Homo sapiens: one gene and its partners. The protein of the gene in region 1 interacts with the protein of each later gene in a pairwise test. Each region holds a gene or a part of one and is shown on either strand. Other genes may lie near its edges. The genes, in order: LMO3, QRICH1, PROS1, FRMD6, ZRANB1, MALSU1 and DRD1.

What was found.
Region 2: the proteins of LMO3 (region 1) and QRICH1 interact in binary tests that used the Homo sapiens proteins (3 or more experiments, as listed by UniProt).
Region 3: the proteins of LMO3 (region 1) and PROS1 interact in binary tests that used the Homo sapiens proteins (3 or more experiments, as listed by UniProt).
Region 4: the proteins of LMO3 (region 1) and FRMD6 interact in binary tests that used the Homo sapiens proteins (3 or more experiments, as listed by UniProt).
Region 5: the proteins of LMO3 (region 1) and ZRANB1 interact in binary tests that used the Homo sapiens proteins (3 or more experiments, as listed by UniProt).
Region 6: the proteins of LMO3 (region 1) and MALSU1 interact in binary tests that used the Homo sapiens proteins (3 or more experiments, as listed by UniProt).
Region 7: the proteins of LMO3 (region 1) and DRD1 interact in binary tests that used the Homo sapiens proteins (3 or more experiments, as listed by UniProt).

Annotation. Positions count from the first base shown.
Region 1 is NC_000012.12:16,547,872-16,551,017, reverse strand, and holds the end of LMO3 (LIM domain only protein 3), read left to right. Parts: 3' UTR 1-2,646; downstream 2,647-3,146.
Region 2 is NC_000003.12:49,087,572-49,091,071, reverse strand, and holds part of QRICH1 (transcriptional regulator QRICH1), read left to right. Parts: intron 1-3,500. UniProt on the Homo sapiens protein: Transcriptional regulator that acts as a mediator of the integrated stress response (ISR) through transcriptional control of protein homeostasis under conditions of ER stress.
Region 3 is NC_000003.12:93,893,897-93,897,396, forward strand, and holds part of PROS1 (vitamin K-dependent protein S isoform 2 preproprotein), read right to left. Parts: intron 2,796-3,500; coding exon 2,680-2,795; intron 1-2,679. UniProt on the Homo sapiens protein: Anticoagulant plasma protein; it is a cofactor to activated protein C in the degradation of coagulation factors Va and VIIIa. It helps to prevent coagulation and stimulating fibrinolysis.
Region 4 is NC_000014.9:51,707,410-51,710,909, forward strand, and holds part of FRMD6 (FERM domain-containing protein 6), read left to right. Parts: intron 1-668; coding exon 669-824; intron 825-3,500.
Region 5 is NC_000010.11:124,948,623-124,952,122, reverse strand, and holds part of ZRANB1 (ubiquitin thioesterase ZRANB1), read right to left. Parts: intron 1-3,500. UniProt on the Homo sapiens protein: Ubiquitin thioesterase, which specifically hydrolyzes 'Lys-29'-linked and 'Lys-33'-linked diubiquitin. Also cleaves 'Lys-63'-linked chains, but with 40-fold less efficiency compared to 'Lys-29'-linked ones.
Region 6 is NC_000007.14:23,302,339-23,305,838, forward strand, and holds part of MALSU1 (mitochondrial assembly of ribosomal large subunit protein 1), read left to right. Parts: intron 1-3,500. UniProt on the Homo sapiens protein: Required for normal mitochondrial ribosome function and mitochondrial translation. May play a role in ribosome biogenesis by preventing premature association of the 28S and 39S ribosomal subunits.
Region 7 is NC_000005.10:175,441,383-175,445,552, reverse strand, and holds the start of DRD1 (D(1A) dopamine receptor), read left to right. Parts: upstream 1-1,370; 5' UTR 1,371-1,854; intron 1,855-1,970; 5' UTR 1,971-2,453; coding exon 2,454-3,794; 3' UTR 3,795-4,170.

The DNA of each region.
Region 1 (3,146 bases):
AAAGTAATGTACATATGGCTGGATTTTTTTGCTTGCTATTCGTTTTTGTGTCACTTGGCATGAGATGTTTATTTTGGACTATTGTATATAATGTATTGTAATATTTGAAGCACAAATGTAATACAGTTTTATTGTGTTACCATTTGTGTTCCATTTGCTTCTTTGTATTGTTGCATTTAGTACAATCAGTGTTTAAACTTACTGTATATTTATGCTTTCTGTATTTACCAGCTATTTTAAATGAGCTGTAACTTTCTAGTAAAGAATTGAAAAGCAAATCTCACTAATGATACACAGATAGATAAAGCAAGTCTATCAACATTAAAAATACTAAAAAATAAAGACACACACAGAGCATTTTAGTGACATCCACTACTTATTGCCGCTATGAGTTAGAGTCTATCAGTGTTCTTGTTATAACCCCCTATTTTCAGGGGGTTAAAAATCAGCTTTAAAAAAATACATAAAAATTTCATCTTAAAGCACTTTCATTTTATACCAACGTGAAAAGTGCCATTTTTAGAATAACTTTAAAGCTTAACAGGTTTCCTTTTAATATCCTTTTTTTGTGTGCTCTTTACTTACACAATGGCTTTGTTTTGCTTTTTCAGCCACACCCCTTATGTGAACTAGTGCCTTTGGGTATCACGTAAAATTTTTTCCAAAGGGTTACTTTAAAAATCTGTTACCACAATTATGAGATGATTTTTAAGTGATAAATTAAACTTCTTCTTGTATAAATTCTGCCCAGATCTCTCCACAAGAGCTGAGGGTTTCATAACTTTATGGCTTAATAAATGTATGACACTGAAAAGATTTGAGTGTGAATCTACTGAAATCACTATAATGCACATTGAAGCTATGATGGTATTTGAGTAGTGAGGTTACTTTTGATCGGAGCAACATAATGCTCATAGAATCTTCTAGAAGAAGAGAAACAAAGGGATTGATAAAATGCTGAGAACTAGTGATTATATATTTTTCTGTATTTACCTGACATTTATTTTAATGTTCAAAAAGTAAACACTTTAAGTTTGATGTGTTTTACTCTCTCATTGTTTTAAGTAATTGCCAACTCAGAATACATCATTCTTAGGCTGAAATTTGTCTTTCCATTTTTTAAGGTGAAATAGTACTACCTTACGTGATAGCATACAAAGAAGAAAGCTCTAGAAAGAGAAATTATGGAGAATGATTATTTAAATTACAATTAAGGAAATGAGAATATGATCCCCTCTTCCGAGTTGCCCACAAACTTGCTTCTTTGCTTTTGCTCCCTGTAATAGAACTACTTTTCAACAAATCTAATTTTGCACGGCACCGTTAACCATATTTTCACTACAGCAAACTTAGTGCTATGGGTTTTCTTTTTCTTTGTTTTTTTCTTGATCACTTGTATAGGAAACAATATTTTCCAGTGTTATTTGCATATATATTTTGTCCTTCCAATATATGCATTACAGATGAAAATTAAATGTTATACCTGAATTCTTGGGTTGGGGCCAAAATATTAAGCTGAAAATAATGCTGGTGTGGATTTGTTTTAAAACAAAGCTTTATTATGAACATGCATGTGAATCTGGATATTGCCTCTTATTTTTAAGAAAATGGTTCTGTGAAAAGTGAATGATATGTATTTTTCCAAATGCTTCATGGTTAGGAGTCTTCAAGTTCCATGTTCCCCAGATTTGAGATATACTAAAGAAAGAAATTCAAAAGTAGCTATTTGGGGCCCACAAAAATAACTATTATTTTAGCCTTAGAGCCTTACACTTGTTTCATGAAGAGAAAGGACTTGCATAACCAAAATAAACAAAGCAAGACAAATTAAAAATATGTGGGGGAGAGATCAGTGAAAAGTGGTTTTCTTAATGCAGCCCTGCTGGTCCCCATTAACAATTGCTTGAAATTCACATGGATGTAAAATTATAATTGTCAGGATCTTATTCAGATGATCTTTTAAGGTTTAACTGGTTTTGCTTTTGTTTATCTATATGTCAAAATACTTGTAAATTGGGAACAAACTTCTCTCAGCTTCTTGAAGTTGTTCAACTATCCTTGCCACTGGAAGACCAAACAAGGTTTTCACTGCTTTTTCTTTTACATAATATGCTGAGAATTATTTCTTATGCTTTTTACTACAAACAAAATTACTCACCTGGATTAAAGATTAAGGCCTTAATCTGTTTAGATTATCTTTAATCTCCATGAAATCGTGAAATAAGACAAGAATAGTGTTTCAGCTGTAGGCCATTTTACAGCTAATTGCCCATAAATTGTAGCATTTATTGACCTGAAGTACTAAGCTAATTGTCTTGACTACTCAAAGCCCCTGAATTGTTGTCAACTTTCCCCTTTGTGTTGTGTAGCCCTAACGTCATTTAGCTTGTTGTCTGATGCCTCCAGTAGGACACCTCCGATGGAGCTTTGATTTCTGAGCAGCGAAAGCTCCCTTCCTAAGATGCATCTCGCATAGGCTGCCTATGATGAAGGACCGTGCACCTCCACTCCAACAGAGTGCTGAGTTTAAAAGTTGACCTGTGTTTGTAATTTCACTTTCATCTTGCTTAATAAATATCTGCTGGATTCTTTCATTCACTTTTTTACATTTGGATTTATGTTTTTAATAAAAGGGGTGTTACACTATTTGATTGCACTTAATTGGCAAAATTTAAGATGATCTCTAGAAAGCATATGTTAAGTCCATGAAAAGAAAAAAAAGGTGTGTAAGGACATTTACTTTCTAAAGCTAAGTCATAACAAGCATAGACAAAGCACCCCAAATGTTTCTCTGAATGTAATGTTTAGGATCTCTGCGCTAGGTCGTTTACCGCTATTTATTTTTATGGGGAAAATAAAACTCTCAAAAATGAAGGTAGCAATTGCTGGGTGTAATTTTGCACATTTATACAAATTTTAGGTGATCTTTCTGAAAGCAACTCTGTTGCTGTTGTCAGATTAAATTTCAAATTTTCTATTCTGTATAATGAATTAAAACAGGAAACTCAATTCTACATTTTTACAGAAGAGATGTTGCACCTTAACTGAAACAGGGCACTGAAAATTATATCTGTAGTAAAACATGCCATGCAAAAGTGTTTTCCTTTTAACTATCACTTTAGGCAAACCACTCTCTGAATCATCAC
Region 2 (3,500 bases), on another chromosome or scaffold:
TTTTGTATTTTTTAGTAGAAACGGGGTTTTACTCTGTTAGCCAGGATGGTCTCAATCTCCTGACCTCGGGATCCTCCCACCTTGGCCTCCCAAAGTGCTGGGATTACAGGCGTGAGCCACCGCGCCTGGCCTATTACCTGTTCTTTTCTGTTATTCTGTTGTACTGCATTTTGTTCCAGATGTTTTAAGTCCTCTTCAGACTTCACTTAAATGCTTCCTTTGTATTTTTTCCTAGTTATTACATTAGATTGTGATTTCTGTTATTAAATTGATGTGGCTGCATGAAGAAATGGTAGATTAATTTCTTCCTTTGCTGAAAGAGGGAAGGAGTGCTCCTTTGGTCTCACTCTTCAGGCCAGGGCAAAACTGTAGGTAGAAATGGTGGCTGTGTCAGAAGGCTAATATTTTTCTCTTTTTCTCTTTTCTCTTTTTTTTTTTTTTTTGAGATGGAGTTTCACTCTTGTCGCCCAGGCTGGAGTGCAGTAGCACGATTTCGGCTCACTGCAACCTCCACCTTCCGGGTTCAAGCAATTCTCCTGCCTCAGCCTCTGGAGTAGCTGGAATTACAGGTGCCCGCCACCACGCTGGGCTAATTTTTTTTTTTTTTTTTTTTGAGACGTAGTCTCGCTCTGCTGCCCAGGCTGGAGTGCAGTGGCACGATCTCGGCTCACTGCAAGCTCCACCTTCTGGGTTCACGCCATTCTCCTGCCTCAGCCTCCCGAGTAGCTGGGACTGCAGGTGCCTGCCACCATGCCCGGCTAATTTTTTGTAGTTTTAGTAGAGACGGGGTTTCACCGTGTTAGCCAGCATGGTCTTGATCTCCTGACCTCGTGATCCGCCCGCCTCGGCCTCCCACAGTGCTGGGATTACAGGCGTGAGCCACTGTGCCCGGCTGATGTCTGGCTAATTTTTTGTATTTGTAGTAGAGACGGAGTTTCACTATGTTGGTCAGGCTGGTCTTGAACTCCTGACCTCGTGGTCTGCCTACCTTGGCCTCCCAAAGTGCTGAGATTACAGGCGTGAGCCACTGCGCCCGCCCATGTTTTTCTTTGTTTTAAAATTTGTGAAATATTTATCCATCCATGTAAATTTAGGCGATCTCTGTACAATTTAATGACAAATTATAAAGTAAATGCTGGCGAAAGTACTACTTTTTCAAGAAATAAAACGATGCCAGTATCTCTGAACCCTTCGTGGGTCCCTTCCTGATCACAGCTTCTCAAGCCGTACAGACAGCTGTTATTCTGTGATAACATTCTTCTTCTTTTTACATTTACCATCTCCGTAGCCCTTAACCTAGTTTAGATTTGTTTCCTTATGAGTTTTGTATAAATGGAGTCATGCTGTATTATGTTGTCTTAGCATAATGTTTCTGAAATTTGTTCACATTGTGTGCAGCTGTTCATTTCCATTTTTTATGTAGTATTCTGTTGTATGAATACACCATAAGGTATTTATCTATTCCACTATTGATAGATATCTGGGTTGCTTCCAGCTTTTGGCTCTTAACAATGCTGCTGTGAACATTCTTGTATTAAGTACCCTTGTTTAAAAAAAAGTTCCTTCATATATACTGATGGGTAAAATTGCTCAGGTTCGTGGAATGGATATTTTCAGCTTCACTAGATAATGCAAGTGGTTGTGCCAGTTTACAATCCGTCAATATTTGGGAAAAATACAAATTTTAGTTTCCTGATTGAAAATAGAACCATGGCCGGGTGCAGTGGCTCATGCCTGTAATCCCATTACTTTAGGAGGCCAATGCGGGCGGATCACCTAAGGTCAGGAGTTCCAGACCAGCCTGGCCAACATGGTGAAATCCCGTCTCTACTAAAAATACAAAAATTAGCAGGGCATGGTGATGGGCGCCTGTAATCCCAACTACTCGGGAAGATGAGGCAGGAGAATCGCTTGAACCTGTAGGCGGAGGTTGCAGTGAACTGAGAGGGCACCATTGCACTCCAAGCTGGGGGACAGAGCGAGACTCCATTTAAAAAAAAAAAAAGAAAAGAAAAAAAGAAAATAGAACCGTGATGAAAATGCCCCTAAACCAGGGACTCCTCTGGCATGGGGCATATAAATGGCCTAATGGGATAACTTCTATCACAAACCCTGCAGTTGGCTAGTATCCTTAAAAATCGAAATATGGGTGGAACACAGTGCCTCATGCCTGTAATCCCAGCAGTTTGGGAGGCCAAGGTGGGAGGATTGCTTGAGCCCCGGAGTTGGAGACCAGCCTGGGCAAGATGGCAAGACCCCATTTCTACAGAAAAATAAAAATAGCTGGATGTGGTAGCATGGACCTGTAGTCCCAGCTACTCGGGAGGCAGAGGCAGGAGGATTGTTTGAGCCCAGGAGTGTGAGGCTGCAGGGATCTATGAATGCACCACTGCATTTTATCCTGGGTAGTGGAGCAAGACCTTGTCTCATTAAAAAAAAAAAAAAAAAAAAAACAGACAAAAGCCTGGTGCAGTGGCTCAGGCATGTAATCCCAGCACTTTGGGAGGTCGAGGGGGGCCGTGGAAATGAACTCCTCACCTGAGGTCAGGAGTTCGAGAACAGCCTGGCCAATATGGTGAAACCCCGATTCTACTAAAAATACAAAAAAATTAGCTGGGCTGGGTGGCGTGCGCCTGTAGTTCAAGCTACTAGGGAGGCTTGAGGCAGGAGAACCACTTGAACCTGGGAAACGGAGGTTGCATTGAGCCGAGATGATGCCATTGCACTCCATCCTGGGTGAGAAAACGAGACTTCGTCTCAAAAAAATAAAAATACAAAGAAACAAAACCCAGGCAAAAGAATAGAAATACGTCAATTCTGGTCGGGCACGGTGGCTCACGCCTGTAATCCCACCACTTTGGGAGGCCGAGGCGGGCAGATCATGAGGTCAGGAGATCGAGAGCATCCTGGCTAGCACGGTGAAACTTTCTCTCTACTAAAAAATACAAAAAAATTAGCTGGATGTGGTGGCGGGCGCCTGTGGTCCCAGCTACTTGGGAGGCTGAGGCAGGAGACTGGCGTGAACCCGGGAGACAGAGCTTGCAGTGAGCCGAGATTGTGCCACTGCATTCCAGCCTGGGTGACAGAGTGAGACTCTGTCTCAAAAAAAAAAAAATAAATGAAATAAAATGAATATATTCACATGGAAAAAAAATCAATTTCCATTTTAAGGAGTCATGTCTGTCTTATAAACATATGGAGTTATTTCAAAGAAGCATAGAAGACATTGTTCTTTTTTTTTTTTTTTTTTTTTGAGATGAACCTCCGCCTCCTGAGTTCAAGCAATTCTTCTGCCTCAGCCTCCCGAGTAGCTGGGACTACAGGCGCATGGTACCCCGCCTGGCTAATTTTTGTATTTTTAGTAGAGATGGGGTTTCACCATGTTGGCCAGGCTGGTCTTGAACTCCTGACCTCGTGATATGCCCGACTCGGCCTTCCAGCGTGCTAGGATTACAGGCATGAGCCACTGCACCTGGCCTATTTTTTTATTTTTATTTTTT
Region 3 (3,500 bases), on another chromosome or scaffold:
TATATGTAGCTATTACAGGGGAGAAAAGTCTTAGGATGCAGGACTTAAAATAACATGTGTTGATTCAGTATCCTTAAAACACTTCAATGAGAATCAGCATTGAAGTTTCCAAGGGACTAGCAAATCCACATGATTGACGAAAGACAAACAGGGAAAAGGAACAATAGGTGTATAACTATTAGTCACCTAACTTAAAATAAAGGCAATTTAAGTTAAAGAGTCTGGACTTCAGATAATTGCTATATTAGGCAGGACAGAATCCCACACTCTTACCGCAATATAGTAAAATAGTAATAGTAATAGAGGCACCATTTGCAATGGGGCACGTATCTCCCTCAAATGGAACAAAGAAAAGGTGACAAAATGAATGTTTTCATCTTTAGAATTCCAAAGAAATATTTAAAAAGAGGTAAAATGTGGAGTAAAGTATGTTGGATGGATAACAATGTAGTAGGAATTTACTGAACTCAGATTATGAAAAAAAGAACAATTTTGCTTGGAATAAGGACTTCTATGCTCTTTCATAATTATCTGAGCATTTTGCTGATGTGAAGCAATATTATCTTGCCAAAATCCAAATCTGTGTATGCTCAGGATCTTCCAGCAGTTGATTCTATTATGGAGATAATTTCCTTTTCTTTGTAAAATCAGGCTGAAATCATAGTTTCAAAGGGTCATGTTCTGCATATTTTGTTTCTGGAATATATCAGCAGCATATTGATTCATTACAATGGGGAACAATTCATTCTTTTTCACAAGCATGGTAAACAGGAAAATAGAATGAATTTGTTGACATTTACGGAGGGAAAGTATTTGATCATGAGCAACAGACGTCAAGAAATTTGCAAAAATAAATAAAAGCACTAGCTATTCTTTGTGTTGATCACACAAGGGGCAGTTTATAAAAATTCATCAAGCTATACATTTAATCTAATGTGTACATATCGGTACATACTTTATATTTCAATGAAAAGTTTAAAATAAATAAATAATAAATTCTGGAAAAAATAATTTGTCCAATTCTGATCCCATGTTAGAGATCAAACTACTATGAATCGTCAGTGAGAAATGAACAAACTCCTGGAGATTGGCTCCAGGACCTCTGGATGGTATCAATATCCACAGATGCTCAAGTCCCTTATATAGAATGGCATAGTATTTGCATATAACCTATGCACATCCTCTCACGTACTTTAAGTCGTCTCTACATTATGTATAATACTCAATACAATGCAAATGTATGTAAATAGTTGTCATACTGTATTGTGTCTCATTTGTATTATTTTGTATTGTATTGTCATTGTGTTTTTTTCTGAATATTATCTACCCGAGGTTGGTTAAATCCACAGATGAGGAACTCAAGGATTTGGAGGATCAATTGTATTCCTAAAAGTGTTATTTACTAGAACTAATATTTTTCTCTCATTATTATTCTCATAGCAGGGAAGAGTTTTCTCCAATCTCTATCATTAGAAGATATTAGTTGCTCTGTGATGTTAAAGGAAAAAACCACATATTGGCAGAAATAAAGTGTGGAAGGAGCACTGTTACTTAAGTATTTATGTAAGTTATTGATCTTAGAATAATTTTCAATGTTTTTAATAACGTCTATGAATTTAGTTGAATTATTTAATGAATAATCATTCATGTATCTAACATCAAGTTCTAAACATACATGCTTATTTAATTAAAATATTTTAAAATTTGAACTGTATAATCTGTCTCAAGTATTTTGCCTTCTCATTATTCCAAAAAAAATCCAATTTCTTTCTTCTACTTCCAGCAATGTATGCTTCTGAGAAAATCTGATAACTGAAGTACAATTATGGCAGATCACCTGAGGTGATCACCTGAGGTCAGGAGTTTGAGACAACCCTGGGCAACGTGGTAAAACTCTGTCTCTACTAAAAATACAAAAATTAGCTGGGTGTGGCAGCTCACACCTGTAGTCCTAGCTACTCAGAAGGCTGAAGCAGGAGAATTGCTTGACCTGGGAGGCGAAGGTTGCAGTGAGCCGAGATTGCGCCACTGCACTCCAGCCTGGGGAACAAAGCAAGACTCTGTCTCAAAAATAAATAAATATAATAAAATAAAAATTGGATCATAAACATTGCTATAAAAATAAGTGGAATCATGACTAAAAAACATAAGCATTTACTTCATTTCTGAACTCAATCTAAGTACGATAATAATGGATAAAGTATTTAGACAGCCAACTAAAATTATGTAATATATGTCTTTAAAATGCCACTTAAGCAAGTTTAAATTTTTTCCTTAATAATTTTGAATATAATGATATTCTAAAAGCAATACTGAGTATTTTTTATTACCTGGTTTTCATAACATGTGTAAAGAATAATGGAAATTTCACAAGTACATTAAATCTACTTTCCCAGCTTCTTAGTAAATATGCATTTTCTACAAAAGGAATAATATGGAATAATGTAAAATGTTCATTGGGGAAAGTCAGCCTAGAATGACTCAAAAAGGTTTTAGGATGAAAATTACATGTGTGAAGGAGTAAATTAACTTTAGGTTTCCCCAAGTCATCTGATTGGTAATATGACTACATTATCTGATAGGTAATACAATTTCACACACTTCAAACCTTTTCGGCCACTTTTCTTCTGCCCTTATCTGCTTAACCTCTAGAAATTATCATTGGTATTGGTTCCTCACCTGCTGATTTCTGGCAAACGAAATTTTAAATATAAAACAACCCCTGCAAACTGCTCCGCCAAGTAAAGTAATTCATACTTTGTGTCAAGGTTCAAGGGAAGGCACACTGAAACAACCTGGAATAAAAGAAACCAAATAAACAACAAGAAAATCAAAATGCACAGGTTATTGCTTAATGTTTGTGTGAGGTCATGCATTTTTGTTTGGTTACTAATGTATCATCTGTAATACACTAAAATAATTAAGAATATTTTTGGTAATAATAAATACATATCTTCCATTTCCTTGTATAGTCTATCTATCAGTATAACCTCCAAGAATACATGTGTTTTAAAGCCTCGTTCAATGTGCATGGCTTTCGATCTTTGTCTTTAATACTTCCTTTGCAAATTTTCGTCCTAAACACAAACTCTTTCTTCAAGAACCAATATATATTTCTTTAATTAACAGTCAGGTATATTATCTCCCATGAATTATGTCTGAAAATTATTTTTATTTGAAGTCAGAAATAGGTGTAAGAATTAATGTACCAATAAACAGCACCTCATTCATTCACTCATTCATTTATTAAGCAAAAGTTTTCTGAGCAAGAATGTGCTATCTAGATAGTAAAGGGAATACTGGAAAACATGAAGGAAATAAATATAAATTCAGATCTCATAGTCTCCAAGGAATTTACAAGAACATTATTTAAAGTCATCACATATGGTATCAAGTATTTTTTTTCTACGAGTGAAAACAAACATTAAAATGAAAAGCTTTTAACATACAAATTATTGAACACATATGAGGATATTTTGAGGAGAATTACGTACATAGCA
Region 4 (3,500 bases), on another chromosome or scaffold:
TCAACACCTTTCTCTTAGCCTGCAGCTGCTGGATACTATATATTTGACATCTGAAAGCCCAGAGTACTGTCTGATGAAAATCTAAGTCACAGTGAATCACAATGAGTGTTTGAATGAAACGGTTTTCTCATAAGTATTCCAGCAGTGTTCATATCAGCCTCTTATGCAAGAACCAAAAATGTTTTAGAGAATTTCTCCCAGTACCCTGCCTTCTTTTGATTAACATTTAGAACCTCCCAGTCTGTGGCTGAAATTTTCTTAAGAGTTAGGTAGGATCCAGAACCTGAAGATGTGCCTACTATAGATGTATTTCATGGTACCAAGTATAAACTTGCAAGTATAAACAATTATGTGTACAAAATTATGAAAGTTTGTGTAGTGTTTTTCTCTTGGTGACTTTAAAGCAAAGATAACTTATTTTTCCTATTTGTTGTGATTTTTCTTCTTAGGTATTCAGCAGTACAACTAAATTGACTCTATAGCTTCTAGTATTAGCTGATTTAGCCTAGTAACATAACAGATGGTGAAAACAGAATGAATTTTCAATGCAAACCAACCAGTTTACATGGCCTATTTTAGCTTCTCATTCTTTCATCATTTTGGGGGTGGGGGTAGAACTTACATCTCTCCAACAAATGTTGCATTGCACACCCCTTGTATCCCAACAGGTTGTTTCCAAGAGGGGGAAGGACTACATCCTGAAGCACATTCCAAACATGCACAAAGATCAGTTTGCACTAACAGCTTCCGAAGCTCATCTTAAATATATCAAAGAGGCTGTCCGACTGGATGACGTCGCTGTTCATTACTACAGATTGTATAAGGTATGAAACGGCAACTAAGTCTTCAGCTTCTGAGAAAAAAACATCTTCTCAATAGGATTGAGAAGGAAAACCGAAGGATTTCATTTCCATTAAAACTTATTTCATTTTTTACATGCTTTTAAAAGAGTTTCATTGAACTGCTTTTTGTTATCGCACGTCAGTCTTGGAGGCCATGGTGCTTTTACTCTGGCCTGGAAGCGGGGTGGAGTATTTTTTAATGGTTCTAATAGTGAGATGACAATTGGCTATAAGATGTTAATCTGACTTTTTTAGTGATTATGGCATTGTTATTTCTCTCCTCCCCAAATCTGCTTTTCTGCTTTGGGGAATAGCATTTGCAACTTCTTTGATAAGTAATTTTTAATATTCCTCAAAGTGAAGCTATACCTGCGTTGTATCCGTCAGTTACAAGAACATTACCACAACAGGTAATGTTTATGGAGTCCTGTGTTTACTGGGCACACTTTATATGTGTTTTTTTTAATCCTCATAACTTTATATGAAAGGTACTTTAATCTTTATTTTACAGTCCAGGAAACTGAGGCTTAAAGAGATTAAATGAATCACCTAAGATCACAAAACTAAATGGCAAAGCCAGGATTTAGTCAAGGCCTTCTTGATAACATAGGCTGTGAGCCTAAGGCACTGTATTCCACACGTTCCTCACTCTCGGAAGTTACTCTCCTTTGTGTCCCGTGTATCTCTAGCCTCGTTTTTCCTTTCTGGGGCAGAGGTCACACACCCAAATAACAACTGGGGCCATGCTCTGCAGGGAATCACTCACAGTACTCTATATCATCTTGTCTTCTCTTCCCCTCCTCCTCCTAACCCCTTTCACTATTCCATAAGTGCCACTTTGTTGGCAAGAACTCCTGAATACCCACTTAAGTATTCAAAGGTGTATTCTCAAACCAAATGGATGAAGTGGTTAAGAGCACTGTAAGTTGAGCCTAACTGCCTAGGATTGAATCTCAGTTTGGCCTCTTACTATGTGACCTCAGGCAAGTTACTTACTTAACCGCTCTGTACTTCAGTTTCCCCATAGTTAAAGGGGACAGCAACATACCTGCTTTTTAGGATTGCTGAATACTAAAGGAATTGTTGGATGAAAAACTGCTTAAAACAGTGCCCAGCACATGTTAAGCATGATGTTAAGTTGGCTGCTGTTACCATTACCATTGATAGTATTATGCTTGTTATCTCTACTTTGCCTTTTGTGGTAGGATTAGCATAGCTAGACCATTGGAAACTGGGCTTTAGTTTGGATGTATTGCTCAGTAATCTTGTTAGCTGGTTCAGAAAACTTAAGGGACCAACTGATGTTTTTTCTATCTCTCTTCTATGCCCAAGAGATGCATTATTAATGCCCCATCTTCCTTGAAAGGCATAATTGAGTTCCATAAGATCTGTTTGGCTAAATTCCTAAAGGACTGAGTTGTAATTTTTTTTTAGCCTGAAGAGATTTTATTTGTGACACCTCAATTGACACAAGAAAATGCAAATAAATGACAGTTTTGATAATTAGTTTATATTTTAAAATGTATTAGAAGTATGAATGATATGTTGGAAAGAGTAAGAGTGTGGCTTTGGAATCAGATGTCAATTAGAAACCCTATGTCACTACTCGCTATAGCTGGGATCCTAGGCAACTATAATCCTGAGCTGTCTATTAAGTGGGGATGATACAATATGCTTCACAAGGTTGGGAGGCTTTGGTGAGATAATGAATCTGAAATAATGAGGTGGAATACCTGGCACATTAGTGAGTGCTCAATAACCATTAATTGCTTTTTGCCTTATTTGCTGGGGAAGCTTGCTATTTTAAAGAATCCTATTAAGAAATAAGAATCTTTTGTTGAAGTAGATATCCCCAATTTATCTTCTGTGTAAAACTTAATTTTCAAGTTTACTTAAAGTATGGCGCTTCTGAATTGCATAGAAAATGACTCTTATCTGCTAAAAAGATTTTTAGTAAAAATGTAACATAATGAAGTGGGGGAAAAGATATTGGCTGATTCACAGTTTTTATTCTTTGGAGAAATTCAGCGGCAGCCATTAAATCTGCTTCATTTAGGAGCTGCTCATAAACGGGAAATAAGGTAGACAAAGGACAAGGGAACATTCTGGAAAAAAAACCCGTTTTGTGCCCCTTTCCCACCAATATATACCGTATACTTGAAAACCAGCATTTTTATGAGCATAGCCTTATTTTGGAAAGCAATCTGTACATCCTTGAAAGCGAAATTGACCAAAACTCATATAATGATGGATTAGTTTCTCCTCTTAAAGCTTATGCTATATGTGTTTTTCTTGATGTAAAAATATACTAGTTGGAAAGAAACAGCCTAAATAGTAGAAATAGGCTGTGTCTTATATTTATAATGCCAGGTGAGGACACATGTTTTAAAAATATTTCATCCCATGTTCATGGGAAAGCTGGCACTAAGCTTAAAAAGATCTCTGCATACTCATTGTGTTTATTGGGAAATCTCATAATGAAAATATTTACTTAGTAATTTCATTTCTATTTTGAACTTTATACACTATATATACTTATTACAGATGAGCACTTAAAGGATGTGGCTGAATTTTAAAGTGAATTTTTAATTGTGGAGGTTTTTTTTTCCCCTTATGCTCATTGTAGTTTATTTTCTACAGTTTATGGTTTAGCTGGTA
Region 5 (3,500 bases), on another chromosome or scaffold:
CTATTTATATTGGTCATGCAAATCACCCAAAAAGCCCAAAGAGGGGGTAGAGGGAGATGAACCTATAAGGAAGTCAATGGGCAAGTTAAAAATGTAAATTTGGACATTATAACTTATTTCATCAATACTGTTTTTATTTTTTTGTTTTTATTTATTTATTTATTTTGAGACAGAGTTTCACTTTGTTGCCCGGGCTGGAGTGCGGTGGCATGATCTCAGCTCACTGCAACCTCCGCCTCCCAGGTCCAAGAGATTCTTCTGCCTCAGCCTCCCAAGTAGCTGGGATTACAGATGCCCGCCACCACACCCAGCTAATTTTTGTATTTTCAGTAGAGACGAGGTTTCACCATGTTGGCCAGGCTGGTCTTGAACTCCTGACCTCAAGTGATCCGACCGCCCCGCTCTCCCAAAGTGCTGGGATTACAGGCATGAGCCACCGCGACCAGCAGATGGTGTGTTTTTAAAAACACCAAATGTTTTGTGCCTTCAGGTAAGTCATCAATAAAATATCCTTGTGAAAGAAATAATTTTTAAAGCTAAGGAGTAATGAACTAGAGAATAGAAGCCTCTTCTATTTTTTTCTTCACAATCGTTTGTATGCCCTGAGTTTTCTCTCAAGTTAAAAAGTCACCCCAAAGATGTCTTAAATGGGCAAAATCACCAGTGTCCAATGCAAGGATTTCCTTTTCCGTTTTGACATGGTAATTTTCTTGGTAATATAAATCACTTTAAAATCATTCCAGTTCAAAGGAATATAATCTCTCAAAAACTAAATGACTTTTCCTTCACAGAAGTTAATTTAATTTTGTTTGGATTATTGTACAACCTCCCTTTCATTACACCAGGCACATATTTCAACAGTAGAAACTTTTTTTAAAAAAATCATTATAGAAGATTACATTTTGCAACGGTTTTGTTTCTCCAGAGAAAAAAGTAATACTAATTTAATAATTTACTTGAGAAAAACCTCTGACAAATTGTAAATGTCCATCTATATACGTAATTCTTAATATCAATACCAAAACAAATTGAAAAGAATATTTTAAAATGTAATACGCCTACACTTTGCTATTTTTTTTTTTAAACAAGGTGTGTAAGTAAAACCAAATGGACAAATACCTTCTGACATATTTAATACCATGCAAGTTTTAAGACATGGTCTTGCTCTGTCACCCAGGCTGCAATGCAGTGACACAATCATGGCCCGCTGCAGCCTGGGCGCAAGTGTTCCTCCCATCCCAGCCTCCTGCATAGGTGGGGACCACATGGGAACACCACCATGTCCTGCTAATTTTTTTTATTTTTTATAGAGACGAGGTCTCGCCAAGTTGCCCAGGTTGGTTTTAGAGTCCTAGGCTGAAACGATCCTCCCCTCTTCTCAACCTCCCACAGTGCTGGGATTACAGGACTGAGCCACCATATCCAGACCCATCCAGAAACTGTGGAAATATTTAGATATTTCTAGAGTTACACTTGGCACTCTAGAGTGGACAGACACCATATGACACGTTATACGGATTTCTGGCAAGAGGCCCAAATACAATTAGAATCCAAATGGATTTGCCTCAAACATTGATTCTCAACACAATTAAGTTATGAGAAAAGGGAAAATAATAGATTAAATATAACAATATTTTTGCAGACAACTAATATAAGAAAACGTTACCAATACATGTTCTATGTTTTAAAAATCATGTAAGACCAGGCACAGTGGCTCACACCTGTAATCCCAGCACTTTGGGAGACCGAGGCGGGCGGGCTGCTTGAACCCAGGAGTTTGAGACCAGCCTGGGCAACAAGGGGAAACCTCATCTCTACAAAAAATGCAAAATTAGCCAGGCGTGGTGGTGCACGTCTGTAGTCCCATCTACCTGGGTGGCTGAGGTAGGAGAATTGCTTGAGCCCAGGAGGCAGAGATTGAAGTGAGCCAAGATCACACACCACTGCACTCTAGCCTGGGAGACAGTGAGACCACCTTGCCTCAAAAAAGTTAATTAGTTAATTAATTAAAAAATAAAACAATAAAAATCATCTAAGTCTTTACAGACATGTCAAAATTCTGAAAGTGGGACAAATTTTGCTCAGAAACCATCAGAATTATAATCCTCATGATGCCACTTCATCCTGCTACTTGATAAAGAAGAGATTCTGGTTCAGTCCGTAAGTCATTGATTTTCAACAGGGAACACCACTGCATGTGCACTTCACGTCACCCCAAAACTTCAGAGCACCGGGAGGCATTACTGATTCACATATTCCCTATAGTGAAAGCTGTTCATACCACTGCTATTGGGCAACTGAGTATTTCAGCATAAAAATTCCAGTTTCAGGCCAGGTGGTGGCTCACAACTGCAGTCCCAGTACTTGAGTCCAGGAGTCTGAAACCAGCCTGGGCAACACAGAGAGACCCCATCTCTACAAATCATTTTTAAAATTGGCGGGGCATGGTGGTATACACCTGTACGCCCAGCTACTAGGGAAGCTGAGGTGGGAGGACTGCTTAAGCCCAGGAGGTCAAGGCTGCAGTGAGCTGTGATCGCACCACTGCACTCCAGCATGGGCAACAGAGCAAGATCCTGTCTCAAAAAAAAAAAAAAAATGTGTGTGTGTGTGTGTGTGTGTGTGTATACGTGAATATATATACATATATGTGTGTGTAAACATATATATATACATATGTGTGTAAACATATATATATACATATATATGTGTATACATAGTTTCAATGTGAACTTGTTACTTAAGTTTGATTTTTTTCCCCCTATACCTTCAACAGCCCCAACCAAATCTCAGCTCCTAAACTTAAGAAAGATGCAGCTATTGTTTAGGAAGTAAGATAAACGCCAACTAGGAAGCAGCAGGTCCAATGACAACTGAATAAAATATTTCAAGTAAAAATCTCATTTGATAGTTATAGCAAACACATAGAATGATTTTTTTGAAAAAACAAATATTGCCATGAGTGAAAGTAGGGAGGTAGAGAAATTAAACATAAACCTGACTTTAGACTTTTCATGTCCATAGACTGCCTGGTGATAAACTGAAGCCTCTATACCCTTTCCTGTAAGACCCTTTCATACCCACTACTTACCTCAGTCTTCCTGACAACCAGTGAGAAGTAAAACTGGCTCTCCTGGGTTGAGCCCCAACTATTGAAAAACATAGAGAGCTAGGAAGCAGGCAAAGAATCTAGAAATTCATAGGAGGAGTAGGATAAAGGTTTGCCCAGACCCTAGTTCCCAAAAATATTCATTCGTTCATTGATATAAAAATACCTGAGTGCCTAGTATGTATGTAGCAGGCACTGTTGTACATACTAAGATACAGCTTTGAACAAAACATAAAATTACTGGCCCTCAGGAAGCTTAAATTCTAGAGTAGAGAGAGACAAATAATAAACAAGATGATGAAGCATATTAGAAGTGTTATGAAGAAAATTAATGCTGTGGGGAGGGATAATGGACAGGGATGAAATTTTAGATACGGCAGTCATGGAGGAC
Region 6 (3,500 bases), on another chromosome or scaffold:
CCTTTCTTAGTCTTAGTCTGTTGAGAATTGGTCATAGAGGAGGCAGTTAAGACCAAAAGAGTAGCCAAAATTGTATAGAGAAAGGTTGTAAAATAAAAAGGTGGGGCCTATACACAAAACCCTGGTACATGACAGAGCAGAAGAAGATGCCAAAAACAGGGTAATTGGAGAGATAGGGAGAGAACTAGGAAAGCATAAAGAAGAGATATACAAAGACAGCATACCAGGGTCTCTATCAGATGTAATAGTGGGATGGAGTCAGAAGACTTAGTGACCATTGGACTTGCGGATGTAAAAAGAATGGGAGGTTTTACAGAGAAGTTTCTGTGAAAGAATAAAGAAATAGAAATTGCCTTTACAAAGATTTTAGATGAGAGAAATGCAAAGGCAAGAAAGTTTTGTTGTTTGTGGTAAAATATATATAACGTAAAACCTACCGTTTAATCTTTTTTTTGGAGACAAGAGTCTCGCTCTGTCGCCCAGGCTGGAGTGCAGTGGCTCGATCTCAGCTCACTGCAGTCTCCGCCTCCCGAGTTCAAGTGATTCTCCGGCCTAAGCCTCCTGAGTAGGTGGGATTATAGGCACCCACCACCACGCTTGGCTGATTTTTCTATTTTTAGTAGAGATGGGGTTTCACCATGTTGGTCAGGCTGGTCTCAAACTCCTGACCACCTCGGCCTCCCAAAGTGCTGGGATTACAGGCATGAGCCACTGTGCCCAGCCCATTTAACAATTTTAAACTGTGTTGTTCAGTAGCTTTAAGTACCTTCACATTGACTTACAATCATTACCACCATCCGTCTCCAGAAATTTTTTCATTTTGCAAAAACGAAACTCTGAACTCATTAAACAATAACTCCCCATTTCTCCTTCCGTAGGCAGCTACCATTCTACTGCCTGTCTCTATGAATTTGACTACTTTTCAGTATCTCATAAAAGTAGAATCATAGATTTGTGACCGACTTATCTGACTTAGCATAATGTCTTCAAGGTTCATCCATGTAGTAGCATGTGCCAGAATTTCCTTCTTTCTTAAGGCTGAATAATACTCTATCTTACGTATATACCACATTTTGTTTATCCCCTTATTCATTGATGGACACTTAGATTGCTTCCACCTTTTGGCTATTGTGAATAATGCTGGTATAAATATGAGTATAGAAATACTGTTCATGAGGCTGGGCGCAGTGGCTCATGCCTGTAATCCCAGCATTTTGAGAGGCCAAGGTGGGCGGATTGCTTGAGCTCAGAAGTTTGAAACCAGCCTGGGCAACATGGTGAAACTCCATCTCTACAAAAAAGACAAAAAATAAAATAAAAAATTGGCTGGGCTTGGTGGTGTGTGCCTGTAGTCCCAGCTACTTGGAATGCTGAGGTGGAGGATTGCTTGAGCCCAGGAGCTTGAGGCTGCAGTGAGCCAAGATTGTACTACTGCACTCCACCCTGGGTGACAGAGCAAGACGCTGTCTCAAAAGAAAAAAAAAAAAAAAAAAGGCTGGGTTCACACTTGTAATCCCAGCACTTTGGGAGGCCAAGGCGGGTAGTTCACCTGAGGTTAGGAGTTCAAGACCAGCCTGGCCAAAATGGTGAAACCCTGTCTCTATTAAAAATACAATAATTAGCTGGGTGTGGTGGAGGGTTCCTGTAATCCCAGCTACTTGGGAGGCTGAGGCACGAGAATCGCTTGAACCTGGGAGGTGGAGGTTGCAGTGAGCCGAGATTGTGCCACTGCTCTCCAGCCTGGGCAACAAGAGCGAAACTCAGTCTCAAAAAAAAAAAAAATTGTTTATGTCCTTGCTTTTAATGCTTTGGGGTATGTGCAAAGAAATGGGATTGCTGGATCATATAGTGATTCTGTTTTTAATTTTTTTTCTGTTCACCAGCCTAGCACAAAGCTGAATGTTTTTAATTTTTTGAGGAGCTCCTGTATTCTTTCATAGTGGCTACACCACTTTACATTTCTCTAGCAGTGCAGAGTTTCCAGTCTTCACATCCTCATCAACAACTTATTTTCTCATTTTGGTAATAGCCATCCTAATGGGCATGACGTGATATCTCATTGTGGTTTTTATTTGTATTTCCCTAAGGATTAGTGATGTTGAGCATATTTTCTTTTGCTTATTGGCCATTTGTATATATTCTTTGAAGAAAAGTCCTTTGCTTTTTTGTTTGTTTTAAAGAGACAGTGTCTCACTTTGTTGCCCAGGCTTCAGTGCAGTGGTGTGGTCATAGCTCACTGCAGCCTGGAACTTCTGGGCTCGAGTGATCCTCTCACCTCAGCCTCCCAAGTTGCTAGGACTAGAGGAGTAGGAGTAGTCAAATTCATAGAGACAGAAAGTAGAATGGTAGGAGTTACTCCACAGTGCCCAGCTAATTTATTTTTTATAGAGACAGGGTCTCACTATATTGCCCAGACTCTTTGCCCATTTTAAAATCAGGTTGTTTGTTGTTTTGTTGTTGAGTTGTAGGAGCTCTCTATATATTCTGGATATTAATCCCTTATCAAATATGTGATTTGCAGATGTTTTCTGCCATTCTGTGGGTTGCCTTTTTACTCTTTAGAGTGTCCTTTGATGCACGAAAGTATTTAATTTTGGTGAAGTTCAGTTTATTTTTTCTTCTGTTGCCTGTGTCTTTGGTATTATATCTAATAAATAATTGCCAAACCAGTATCATGTTTTCCCTATTTTCTTCTAAGAGTTTTATAGTTTTAAGTCTCCTGTTTAGATATTTAACCCATTTTGAGTTAGTTTTTGTAGGCGGTTAGTTTTCCATGTGGACATTTCCTCAGCAACGTTTGTTGGAAGGACTGTCCTTTGTGCATTGAATGGTCTTGGCTCCATTGTTGAAAATCATTTGACCATAGGCACAAGGGTTTATTTCTGGGCTCTGTATTCTGTTTCATCAGTCTGTGCGTCTGTCTTTTTGCCAGTTTCAGACTGTTTTGTTTACCATAGCTTTGTTCTAAGTTTTGAAATCAAGAAATATGAGACTCCAACTTTGTTCTTTTACAAGATTGTTTTGGCTATTTGGGGTTCCTTGAGAGTCCATATAATTTTTTTTTTTTTTTTGAGATGGAGTTTCGCTTTTGTTGCCCAGGCTGTAGTACAGTGGCACAATCTCGGCTCACAGATTCAAGCAATTCTCCTGCCTCAGCCTCCCAAGTAGCTGAGGTTACAGGTGCCCGCCACCATGCCCAGCTAATTTTTTGTATTTTTAGTAGAGATGAGGTTTCACCATTTTGGCTAGGCTGGTCTTAAACTCCTAACCTCAGGTGATGCACCCGCCTTGGCCTCCCAAAGGGCTGGGATTACAGGTGTGAGCCACCGTGTCTGGCCCCACATAAAGTTTAGGTTGGATTTTTCTGTTTCTTCAAAAAATATTGTGATCTTGATATAGATTGCACTGAATCTGTAGACTGCATTGGGTAGTATTGGCATCTTTACAATATTGTCTTCCCATCCATGAATATGAAGTATCTTTCCATTTACTGGCATCTG
Region 7 (4,170 bases), on another chromosome or scaffold:
GAAGGCACCACAGTGTCGCAATTTATGCACAATTAGTGCAAAGTCTCACCTGTGAGCTTGCCTGGGGCAACCAGGGGAGGCTGGGGGCTCCTTCTCCACCAGGCCCCGCTGCCTCCATATGACTCTTCCCTGTATTTTAGCCCTGTAGGTAATTTTCCAGTTTGTGGGCTCCTGTACCACATGCGGTGAGTTAAAAGAACAGGTGGGCAGCGGCGCGGCTCCCGCGTGAGCTGTGTGACTTTGAGCAGGCCCCACTACCTTTCCGAGCCGCATTTCCACCTGGGCGAAGCGGGTTGAGCCGGCCTGGCGGGGAAAGATTCTTTTAACGGGGGAACAACGTAAGGCGTGCACCGGGGAACACGGATGCTGCTGAGTCAATGCCCGCTCTGCCGTTCTCTTTGAGAGTAAGGCTTGCGTCTCGCCTGCTCTAGCGCCCCAGGTTTGAACGCAGTGGGCGCGCAGGAGGAAACATAGATTCACGAATGCAATGCCAGCAAAGTAAAATTTTTCACCCTTGTCCGTTTTTCAGGGTGTTTCAAGCGGAGGAGTCCTGAGTGGAGAAGATTCCGCTTCCCTGTTTTCAGGTTCTGGCAGTCATGGACCGGGAAGAGCGAGTCGGGGCGCGGGTCCCTGGCGGTCGCTGGAACCCTTGTGAGTGAGGTTGGTGCCCGCGAGGGCACAGCGGGCGCTCGGGAAGTCGCAGCCGCCGGCAGAGGGCGCCCCGGGCACACGGAGCGCGCGGCGCTGGGGTTGGGGCGCTCGGGAGGTGCGGGGCACCGGCTGGAGTCCGGCGTTGACCGCAGCCGGGACGCGCCCGCCACCTGGGCGGGGAAGGAGTGAGTCCCCTCGGGGCGCAGCGGCGCGCGCTGGCCCGGATCCCAGCTGCGCCGCGCCCTCCCTGCGAGCGGTGAGTACAGGCGCCCACGGGCATCTCCAACCCTAGTTAGGGGACACTTGGAGACAACGCAGGTCGGACGTCCGCCGGCCGTTCTAGGAGTTGGTGTGCGGGGAATGGGGGGTGCTCCCGCTCGCTTAGGGCTTTGGGTCCGGCTAGGGGTTGACCCCAAGAGGCGCTGGATGTCGGGGCTGAGCTTTGCTTTCAGGGGACTCAAGCTTACTTGAGGTTCTGACATTGGATTTGCCTCGCGGGCCCTGCGCGTGCTGCGCGGGGATCCGGAGACTGGCGAGGTAACCAGGGAGGGCAAGCACTCACCGGGGCGTCCTCCGCCCACCTCGCCCGCAGAACCATCCAGGGGGACCACGTGCGGCTGTCGCCCGCAACTCTGCCTGTCAAGCGAGGACCGCCCCCAGGGCAGGGGAGGGGACGCGCGGGCGGGGTGGGCTGTGCCCCGCGGGAACCCCGCCGGCCTGTGCGCTTGCTGGTGCCAGCTCGGCTCGCTGCCTCGCATTGCCACAGGCTCCTGAGAGGTCGCGGGCAGTGCCTGCGGGGAGGCGCGGGGCCCTGCTCTGTAGGGCTGAAGGCCGCCCGAGGTTCGCCAAGGCTCTGGGCTCTCGAAAGGAAGCCAAGAAAAGAAGCTGCCCAGGTGACCAGTCCTGGGAGTGCTCTCTCCCAAGGAAGCTCCGAGCGCCCAGGAGCCCTTAGCCGGGGTCTAGTGCCCTTTGAACAATCTCCAGCTCTTCAAGGAAGTGGGCTGCCGCCGCCTCTCTTGGGACCTGGCCTGGGATCCTTTCCCCAAACGCACCCCGGCGATTTTTGCGCACCGGGAGCCGAACCCCTGCTGCGCGCAGCTGGCTGGGCTCAGGCGCGCTTCCTCAACGTTTCGGAGCCGCTGCCCCCAGCGAAGTCCACATTCCAAGCTCCAGGGGCTTTGAGAGAGACGACCCCAAGGCAAGGTAGGTGGCTCGGACGGGCTCGCCCTGGGAATTATTAGGTTGGGCTTGACGTGAGTAATGATGCCATCTGCTTAAGTCTTGGAGAAAGACCGTGTGTTTTCCTTTTGCTTTTTAAGGCGTTTGGAGAGCTGCTGAGGAGCCAGGGGCTTGGAGGAGCGAGAAGACATGTATTTTCAGCTGAGTCTCAGAAGGGGAGAATCTCCTGTCACCACCAGAAAAGCAACAGCCCCGAAATGTGATTGCAACTGACTAGCAGAGCAGAGGCCCAGGAGTCACTGGATTGATGATTTAGAATATGCTAAAAAGCCAGTGCTTTATTTGGGGAATTCAGGGGCTTTCTGGTGCCCAAGACAGTGACCTGCAGCAAGGGAGTCAGAAGACAGATGTAGAAATCAAGAGTGACCATCCACGGGATTGACTTGGATTGCCACTCAAGCGGTCCTCTCATGGAATGTTGGTGAGGCCCTCTGCCAGGGAAGCAATCTGGCTGTGCAAAGTGCTGCCTGGTGGGGAGGACTCCTGGAAATCTGACTGACCCCTATTCCCTGCTTGGGAACTTGAGGGGTGTCAGAGCCCCTGATGTGCTTTCTCTTAGGAAGATGAGGACTCTGAACACCTCTGCCATGGACGGGACTGGGCTGGTGGTGGAGAGGGACTTCTCTGTTCGTATCCTCACTGCCTGTTTCCTGTCGCTGCTCATCCTGTCCACGCTCCTGGGGAACACGCTGGTCTGTGCTGCCGTTATCAGGTTCCGACACCTGCGGTCCAAGGTGACCAACTTCTTTGTCATCTCCTTGGCTGTGTCAGATCTCTTGGTGGCCGTCCTGGTCATGCCCTGGAAGGCAGTGGCTGAGATTGCTGGCTTCTGGCCCTTTGGGTCCTTCTGTAACATCTGGGTGGCCTTTGACATCATGTGCTCCACTGCATCCATCCTCAACCTCTGTGTGATCAGCGTGGACAGGTATTGGGCTATCTCCAGCCCTTTCCGGTATGAGAGAAAGATGACCCCCAAGGCAGCCTTCATCCTGATCAGTGTGGCATGGACCTTGTCTGTACTCATCTCCTTCATCCCAGTGCAGCTCAGCTGGCACAAGGCAAAACCCACAAGCCCCTCTGATGGAAATGCCACTTCCCTGGCTGAGACCATAGACAACTGTGACTCCAGCCTCAGCAGGACATATGCCATCTCATCCTCTGTAATAAGCTTTTACATCCCTGTGGCCATCATGATTGTCACCTACACCAGGATCTACAGGATTGCTCAGAAACAAATACGGCGCATTGCGGCCTTGGAGAGGGCAGCAGTCCACGCCAAGAATTGCCAGACCACCACAGGTAATGGAAAGCCTGTCGAATGTTCTCAACCGGAAAGTTCTTTTAAGATGTCCTTCAAAAGAGAAACTAAAGTCCTGAAGACTCTGTCGGTGATCATGGGTGTGTTTGTGTGCTGTTGGCTACCTTTCTTCATCTTGAACTGCATTTTGCCCTTCTGTGGGTCTGGGGAGACGCAGCCCTTCTGCATTGATTCCAACACCTTTGACGTGTTTGTGTGGTTTGGGTGGGCTAATTCATCCTTGAACCCCATCATTTATGCCTTTAATGCTGATTTTCGGAAGGCATTTTCAACCCTCTTAGGATGCTACAGACTTTGCCCTGCGACGAATAATGCCATAGAGACGGTGAGTATCAATAACAATGGGGCCGCGATGTTTTCCAGCCATCATGAGCCACGAGGCTCCATCTCCAAGGAGTGCAATCTGGTTTACCTGATCCCACATGCTGTGGGCTCCTCTGAGGACCTGAAAAAGGAGGAGGCAGCTGGCATCGCCAGACCCTTGGAGAAGCTGTCCCCAGCCCTATCAGTCATATTGGACTATGACACTGACGTCTCTCTGGAGAAGATCCAACCCATCACACAAAACGGTCAGCACCCAACCTGAACTCGCAGATGAATCCTGCCACACATGCTCATCCCAAAAGCTAGAGGAGATTGCTCTGGGGCTTGCTATTAAGAAACTAAGGTACGGTGAGACTCTGAGGTGTCAGGAGAGCCCTCTGCTGCTTTCCAACACACAATTAACTCCGTTTCCAAATACATTCCAGTGTATTTTCTGTGTTGTTCATAGTCAATCAAACAGGGACACTACAAACATGGGGAGCCATAAGGGACATGTCTTTGGCTTCAGAATTGTTTTTAGAAATTTATTCTTATCTTAGGATTTACCAAATAGGGCAAAGAATCAACAGTGAACAGCTTCACTTAAAATCAAATTTTTCTGGGAAGAAAATGAGATGGGTTGAGTTTGCTGTATACAA